Linked DNA regions of Homo sapiens: all the other regions are linked to region 1. The links come from fine-mapping of genetic effects on gene expression. A gene starts in region 1. Each other region holds a variant in brackets. All regions are shown on one strand. Distances are between the middles of the regions.

The links. PIP is the estimated chance that this variant, and not a neighbour inherited with it, causes the effect. A credible set is the group of variants that fine-mapping cannot tell apart.
Region 2: its variant is the best candidate, but not a certain one, in a credible set for the expression of ANP32A in whole blood (TOPMed, PIP 0.84).
Region 3: its variant is the best candidate, but not a certain one, in a credible set for the expression of ANP32A in whole blood (INTERVAL, PIP 0.75).

What each region holds. Positions count from the first base shown.
Region 1 is chr15:68,819,426-68,821,925 of GRCh38, forward strand. ANP32A (acidic nuclear phosphoprotein 32 family member A) reads right to left here and starts at 1,470. Exons shown (of 7, transcript NM_006305.4): 1 at 1,273-1,470. The coding sequence starts at 1,326. RefSeq lists enhancers at 1-168, 169-750 and silencers at 1,422-1,671, 1,722-1,881, 1,952-2,011.
Region 2 is chr15:68,744,923-68,747,766 of GRCh38, forward strand. No RefSeq gene overlaps it. Among named protein-coding and RNA genes, the nearest start is that of MIR4312, 56 kb to the right of the region's middle. The variant G/A (reference allele first, on the strand shown) is at 1,730.
Region 3 is chr15:68,739,952-68,742,795 of GRCh38, forward strand. No RefSeq gene overlaps it. Among named protein-coding and RNA genes, the nearest start is that of MIR4312, 61 kb to the right of the region's middle. The variant TG/T (reference allele first, on the strand shown) is at 1,159.

The DNA of each region.
Region 1 (2,500 bases):
GATTCCCACCCGTGTAAGTTTCCTCCGGCCGTGCTCCCGCCGCTGCCCAATCAATAACGGCGGCTAGCGGGCAAACTCCCATCCTAGAGCTGCGTGTTTGCCATGCCCGCATAAACGTGGACCCAGCCAGTACCCACCACGGGCGCCAGCTCCGGGCAGCTCGCGTCCTGACAAAGTTTCCCGTGCCCATTTATTAAGCAGGCGCCGAATGGCTGCCGACAAGCCCAGCACTGAGAAAGACGGGCCGGGGGTTCGAGCTGGGGGGCACCAGGGCCCAAAGGCTGGCATCTTGGGGAAGCCGGAAGGAGCTGGGGCGAGGGGGCACCGGGACGTAGCCTTTGGGCAACTTGCACCAGCGATCGCTGGAGGCAGGGAGACGCGGGGATTATCTGTGCCTTAGCACGTTCGAAAATCCCTCCCCCTCCTTCTAATTTATCCTCCCTTCGGAAGGAAAGGAAGAAACATCAGCATCTGGCCCGAAGGTGGGGTGGAAAGAGTGAGGGAGAAAGAGGAGGAGAGGAAGGGAGGCAGAGAAAGGGAGGGAGGGAGAGAAAGGGCGCGTTCACGAACACTACAAAGTTACAAATATGGCTCCCCCGTCTCTCGCCTCATCACTGCAAAGAAATGAAGACGCACTTTAAACTCCAGCCATTCCCAACTCCGCTGCAGCCCCCTCCCCACGCGCTCTCCCCGGGGGCCTCGGCCCACATTTATCAGAAACTAAACCGGACTCGCGAAGCCCCAAACTTATTGTGTGTGCGAGCGAGCGAGCGAGAGAAAGGGAGGGGGGAGGCGCGGGAGGGGGGCGGAAGGGGGGATACATTTATAAAATGTAAAACCCCCTTTTTTTGTTGTTAAATCCAGGAGGCAGCCCCTCTCCTCCTCCTCCCTCGTTAATCTTCCCCCCAGACGGAGTCACGGGAGCAGCGATCTCCGAGGGTGATTTCGCCTCATTCTCTCCGACCCAAACGCGTGCGCCCGCCGGCCCCCGATGGGTGCACACTCGCACGCACACTCTCGCACCCACACTCGCACACGCGGGAGCACACGCACAGGTAGTCACACACCAAGGGCAGCGGCGGCGGCAGCCGGAACATGCTCGGATGGCATTGCAACCCCCCAGCCTTGCCAATTCGCTTGCAGTCCGACCCCCAAACCCGCACCTCCCGGGCGCCCCCCCCCAAAAAAAGTGCCTCCCCCCAGCGCGCACACACACACACACACACAAAGTAGGAGAATGGACCGACAGAGATATTTTTGGCAAATGCTCACATCAGAGGGCGTCCTGTTCCGCAGCTCTAAATGAATCCGTCTGCCCATCTCCATCTCTCGCGCTCTCTCTCTGCAGAGGCTCCCGCGCCGGCGGAATTCAATCAATAAACCCCGAACCCACGGCCGCGCGTTTTAGGACTTTGAAGGCTCAACCAGCTCCGCTCGGTTCTCGAGCCCCCAGCACCCGCGGCGCACACTAACCTGATCGCCGTGGAGGCGGGATCTGCGGCCCCATGGACGAGCGGCAGCGGCCCGAGCCAATCGCCGCCGAGGGTCTCCGGGCAACAGCCAATGGCAGTGGCGGCGGGGGGGGGAAGGGACCAATGGGCGGGCTGCGCAGCCGGCCAGGGAGGCTCGGCCATTTGGTAGTGGTGCCGGAGACGGACCCCTTTAGATTTCGGGGCGGCTGAGGAGCGCGGCGGCTGCTCTGTGGCTGAGTGAGGGGGGTGGGCGGAATGGCGGGGGAAGGGAAGGTGACTGTGCCTCGAGGGCCGAGCCGCCCGGCCTTGCCAGCCAGCCGCCGCCTCAGCGTTCGGCCGGGGGCGGGGCCGCAGGTGCGTTCTGCGAGGGGGAGGGGCGCGGCCGGAGGGGTCGGGTCGGGGTCCCCGCCCGGCCGAGGGCTTCGCGGGGCGGCGCGACGGGGTTGCGGAAGGAGGCGGGCGGCTTGAGGTCCGGGGACCGCGGGCTGCCCAGCGGGAGGGCAGATGAAAGGCCTGGAAGGAGGAGAGGGGTCAGGGTGCAATGCCGGGAGGGGCTCGTCGGGTCCCGGGTCCGGCGGCTCGCGCTGGGGAGCGTGGCTGCCCCCGTCACCCCCACCGCGGCTGCCCAGCAGCCCGCGCGCCCCTTCCCCTCCGGCCTCGTCCCTGTCAGGCCGCCACCATCGCCACCCTCGTATACATAAGTCAGTAAAAGCAAGATGCTTCCACTTTTGGATGACTTACCGCGCGGTCGCGACCCTTCCCACGAAGAGGCTTTTCACTTTGCTGTCATATTAGGTCAGCTTGGAAGAAGTGATCACCAAGAGACACCCAAGATCTTGTTTAGGCAATAAATGAATGAAGACCATGGATTAAGAACCGTTGCTAGATATGTAGAATATTAAAAGGTGGAAAAGGAAGGTGCTCATAACTCCTGGTTTTCTGGACCAAACATAATTTCTGGGCTTTATAGACCTAGTGAAAGAGAACGGCGCACGGTTTATTCTAATCGTCCACCTGAGTCATTCGGT
Region 2 (2,844 bases), 74 kb before region 1:
TAGACAAATCTACAATTTCAGCTGTAGATTTCAACACTTACCTCTTATTAATTGACAGAACAAGGAGATAGAAAACCAATAAGTATATAAAAGATTTAAACAATACTATTAAATAACTTAACCTAATATATAGTTATAAAACACTATACCCAGCACTGGCAGAATACATATCTTGTTCAAGGGTACATAGAACATTCACAAATGTAGACCATATTCTAAGCCATATACAATCTCGATAAACTTATAAGGAATGAAATTGTACAAAATATATTCTCTGAGCATGACAGAAATAAAGAGGAGGGCCAGGTGTGGTGGCTCATGCCTGTAATCCCAGCACTTTGGGAGGCCAAGCCGGGCGGATCACAAGGTCAAGAGTTTGAGACCAGCCTGGCCAACATGGTGAAACCCCATCTCTACTAAGAATACAAAAATTATCTGGGTGTGGTGGTGCATGCCCATAATCCCAGCTACTCGGGAGGCTGAGGTAGGAGAATTACGTGAACCCAGGAGGCAGAGGTTGCAGTGAGCCGAGATCATGCCACTGCACTCACCCTGGGCGACAGAGCAAAACTCTGTCTTGGAAAAATAATTAATTAATTAATTTATTTATTTATTTATTAAAGAGGAAAAAGAAAAATATCTAGATAATCCCTAAATATTGAGAAATTAAACAGTATACTTCCATGTAACCCAAGAGTTAAAAAAGAAATTGCACTGATGGCTGGGCGCGGTGGCTCACACCTGTAATCCCAGCACTTTGGGAGGCCGAGATAGGTGGATCACCTGAGGTCAGGAGTTCGAGGCCAGCCTGATCAACATAGGGAAACCCCGACTCTACTAAAAACACAATAATTAGCCGGTGTGGTGGTACATGCCTGTAATCCCAGCTACTCAGGAGACTGAGGCAGGAGAATCACTTGAATCCGGGAGGTGGAGGTTGCAGTGAGCCAACATGGCGTCACTGTACTCCAGGCTGGATGACAGACTGAGACTCCATCAAAAAAAAAAAAAAAAAGAAAGAAAGAAAGAGAGAGAAAGAAAGAAAGAAAGAAAAGAAAGAAAGAAAGAAATTGCACTGAAAAACCGAAAAATAGAAAATATTTATTACTGAATGAAAATAAAAACACAATAAGCAAAAGTTTATAAGACACATCTAAAACGGTGCTAATAAATTAGATTAATGTATAGCTTTAATTGGTTACAGTGGATAAGAAGTGCCTAAAAGCAGCGTTCTAAGCCTCTATATTAAGAAGCTAGAAAAAAAGAGCAAAATACACCCAAAGTAAATGGGAAGGAAATCATAAAGAGTAGAATTAATGAAATAGAAAATGGACAAAGAGGGCAGGTGCAGTGGCTCTTGCCTGTAATCCTAGCGCTTTGAGAGGCCAAGGTAGGCAGATTGCTTGAGCCCAGGAGTTTGAGACCAGCCTGGGCAACATGGCGAATCCCCTGCCTCTACAAAGAATACAAAAATTAGCCAGTCATGGTGGTGCATACCTGTAATCCCAGCTACCTGGGAGGCTGAGGTGGGAGGATGGCTTGAGCCCAGGAGAGACTGGTGCTACTGCACTTTCAGCCTGGGTAATGACAGACCCTGTATCCAAAAAAAAAAAAAGAATGGAGAATATTAATCAATTTGGTACAAAACTTGATTTTGATGTTTTTTTGTTTTTTTGTTTTTTTTGAGAGGGAGTCTCCCTCTGTTGCCCAGACTGGAGTGCAGTGGCGC[G/A]ATCTCGGCTCCCTGCAAGCTCTGCCTTCTGGGTTGACGCCATTCTCCTGCCTCAGCCTCCCTAGTAGCTGAGACTACAGGCGCCTGCCACCACGCCTGGAACAACATTTTTTTTTTTTTTTTGTATTTTTAGTAGAGACGGAGTTTCACTGTGTTAGCCAGGATGGTCTCGATCTCCTGACCTCGTGATCCACCTGCCTCGGCCTCCCAAAGTGTTGGGATTACAGGCGTGAGCCACTGAGCCCAACTTTTTTTTTTTTTTTGAGACAGGGTCTTGTTTGTTTTTTTTTTTTTTTTTTTGCTTTGCTGCCCAGACTGGAGTGCAGTGGCGTGATCATGGCTCACTGCAGCCTCAAACTCCCTGGTTCAAGTGATTCTCCCACCTCAGCCCCTCTATCCCCTCAGTAGCTGGGAATACAAGCATGTGCCACCCACCTGGCTAAGTGTTTTTTGTTGTTATAGAAACAGGGTCTCACTTATGTTGCCCAGGCTGGTCTTGAACTCCTGGCCTGGAAGTGACCCTGCCACCTCAGCCTCCCAAAGTGCTAGGATTACAGGCATGAGCCATTGTGCCCAGCTAAAACTGGATTTTTTTTTTTTTTTTTTTTTTTTTTTTTTTTTTTTGAGACAGAGTCTTGCTCTGTCGCCCAGGCTGGAGTGCAGTGGCGTGATCTCGGCTCACTGCAACCTCTACCTCCTAGGTTCAAGCGATTCTCCTGCCTCAGTCTCCTGAGTAACTGGGGTTACAGGCATGTGCCACCACACCCAGCTAATTTTTGTATTTTTAGTAGAAATGGGGTTCCCCCATGTTGGCCAGGCTGGTCTCAAACTCCTGACCTCAGGTGATCCGCCCGGCTTGGCCTCCCAAAGTGCTGGGATTACAGGCATGAGCCACCACCCCTGGCCTTAAAATTGGACCTTTGAAAAGATGAATAAAATTGATAAACTAGCTCAACTGACCAAGAAAAAAAGACTCAAATTAACAATGAAAGGGAAATTAAAAAGGGGACATTACCACAGATACTTCAGCTGTGAGAAGGATAATAAGGGACTATTATAAACAACTTATGCCCACATATTCTAAAACTTAGATGAAATGGGCAAATTCCTTGAAA
Region 3 (2,844 bases), 79 kb before region 1:
GAATGTCGTAGGAATTCAGAAGAAACAAGAGATTAATATAGACTGAGGAAAGAGGTAGGCTAGGACTTGAATAACAAGTAGAGGAGCTTCCACTGTCACCTAATACATTAGGGACAAACCACGTCTTCCTACCTCCAACCCAGGAGGCAACTACAAAAACAGAAAGAGCATTGAACTACGAGACCGAAGAACAAGCTCCGGTCCTGCCTCTGTGCCTCAGTGTGTAACTTTGAACATATCATTCAACTTCTGAGCCTGAGTTTCCTCGTCTGTAAAATGAAGCCGCTATAGCCCACCTAGAGGGGTTTCTCTGAGGTTTGGTGAGGTCCTGAATGTAGTAGACCCCCGCACAAAGTAGACCTGACCAGATGTGTGTGGATTTATTTTCAGCCACATAGCCTCTGTCTCTAAGATTTCCCAAAGCACTGGCTGAAAGCCCACCTGAGAAAAGCCTGCATCTGTCAACCCAGCTTCCTGGACCTGAGCACACTCATTCTGCCCAGGCTGATGTGCCATCTTGCCCCTCTTCCCCAACACCAGCACACAGCACCCAAAGCCTTCCTCACACCCAAGAGAACCACGCTCTGAGGACTACCACCTGCAAGAGCCGAAGACTTGAAGGCATTTACCTCCCACAAGGGGGTAACATACTTTCCTCTATCAATTTCTGAGTAAAGAATATTTTCAGGGCCGGGCACAGTGGTTCACGCTTATAATCCCAGCACTTTGGGAGTCCAATGTGGGCAGATCACCTGAGGTCAGGAGTTTGAGACCAGCTTGGCCAACATGGTAAAACCCCACCTCTACTAAAAATACAAAAATTAGCCAGGTGTGGTGGTGGTCACCTGTAATCTCAGCTACTTGGGAGGCTGAGGCAGGAGAATCGCTTGAACCTGGGAGGTACAGGTTGCAGTGAGTCGAGATCATGCCACTGCACTCCAGCCTGGGCGACAGAGCGAGACTCTGTCTCAAAAAAAAAAAAAAGAAAAGAAAAAGAAAATTTTCAAAATGAAATTCTCCAGAATTTTTACTCTCCACTTTAATTCCTGGTGTCAGACAGCAGGACCCTCACGTTCCCCTGGCAACAGAGTTTATTAGGCACCCACAGTGCCAGGGCTGTGCTGGCACCCCAACTCCTCATGGAGATTACAAACTAGC[TG/T]GGGGGGGGGGTGTGGCAGGCCCCCAACAATGCCCATGCACTTATCCCTGAAACCTGTGAATTTATCTGTTACACGGCAAAAAGGGTCTTTGTGGATATAATTGAGGTTTTGAACCTTAAAATAGAGCCATGTCCTGCTTTGCTCAGGTGGGGTCAATCTGGGGTCAATCAGATCACATGAGCCCTTAAAAGCAGAGAACTTTGTGTAGCTGGAATCAGAGACTCAAGTCAGTGGGTGGGTGAGGTGGCTTACACCTACAATCCCAGCACTTTGGGAGGCCAAGGTAGGTGGATCACTTGAGGCCAGGAGTTCGAGACCAGCCTGCCCAACATGGCAAAACCCCGTCTCTACCAAAAATACAAAAATTAGCCAGGCGTAGTGGCACATGCCTGTAGTTTCAGCTACTCAGGAGGCTGAGTTGAGGCAGGAGAATCGCCTGAACCCAGGAGGCAGAGATTGCAGTGAGCTAATATAGTGCCACTGCACTCCAGCCTGGGTAACAGAGTGAGACTCCATCTCAACAAAAAAAAAAAAAAAAAAGAAGAAGAAGAAAAAGGAGGTGGAGGAGGAGGAAACCAGAGATTCAGAGCATGAGGGGTACTCAACTCACTATTGCTGGGATGGGTGGGGACATGAAAAATGTGAGAAAGAATGAAGGCAGCCTCTAGGAGTAAAGATACCCCCAGCTGACCACCAGGGAGGAAACAGGATCCTCAGTCCTACAACCACAAGAAACTGAGTTCTACCAACCCGAGTGAGCTTGGAAGTAGATTCTCCCCTAGAACCTCCAGATAAAAGCCTAGTCCTGCTGACACTTTGGTTTCAGCCTTATGAGACCCCTAAACAGAAAACCCAGCCTAGCTTCCCTAGGTACAGGTTGAACCTGGGAGGTACAGGTTGCAGTGAGTCGAGATCATGCCACTGCACTCCAGCCTGGGCGACAGAGCGAGACTCTGTCTCAAAAAAAAAAAAAAGAAAAGAAAAGAAAAAGAAAAAGAATATTTTCAAAATTAAATTCTCCAGAATTTTTACTCTCCACTTTAATTCCTGGTGTCAGACAGCAGGACCCCCAAGTTCCCCTGTCAACAGAGTTTATTGACCCATAGAGCTGCCCGAGATTGCGCCATTGCACATTGCACTCCAGCCTGGGCAACAAGAGCGAAACTCCAGCACAAAAAAAAAAAAAAAAAAAGTCAGAATGGAGGCATAGGAAGGGAAATAGAAAGGGGATGGCTTTGAGTCAGACACAGCTGGGTACTAACCCTTCCTCCAGCAGCTTGCACAGGTTTCTTTAGCTTTCTGAGATTTAGTTTCAAACCCAAAAAATAAAGAGATGATAAAAAGGACCTATATCACAAAGGGCTGTGAAGAAACAGAAGGCAGGTTATTTATTGATCATCACACCACATGAGGAAAAATACATTCCATACTATATTTTCCAATTCAAAAGCCCTGATTTTTCCCACTTTAACATCTTCGAATCATTCAACCATGCAGCAGTCCTGAGATACTTCTATTGCTTGCACTTGCAAAATCAGTGTTACTGGTTAGGAAGAAAATTCCAAAAGCAAAAATGAAGCATCCTATTAAGAAATGCTGGCCGGGCACAGTGGCTCAAGTCTGCAATCCCAGCACTTTGGGAGGTTGAAGTGAGCAGATCACTTGAGGTCAGGAGTTCAAGACC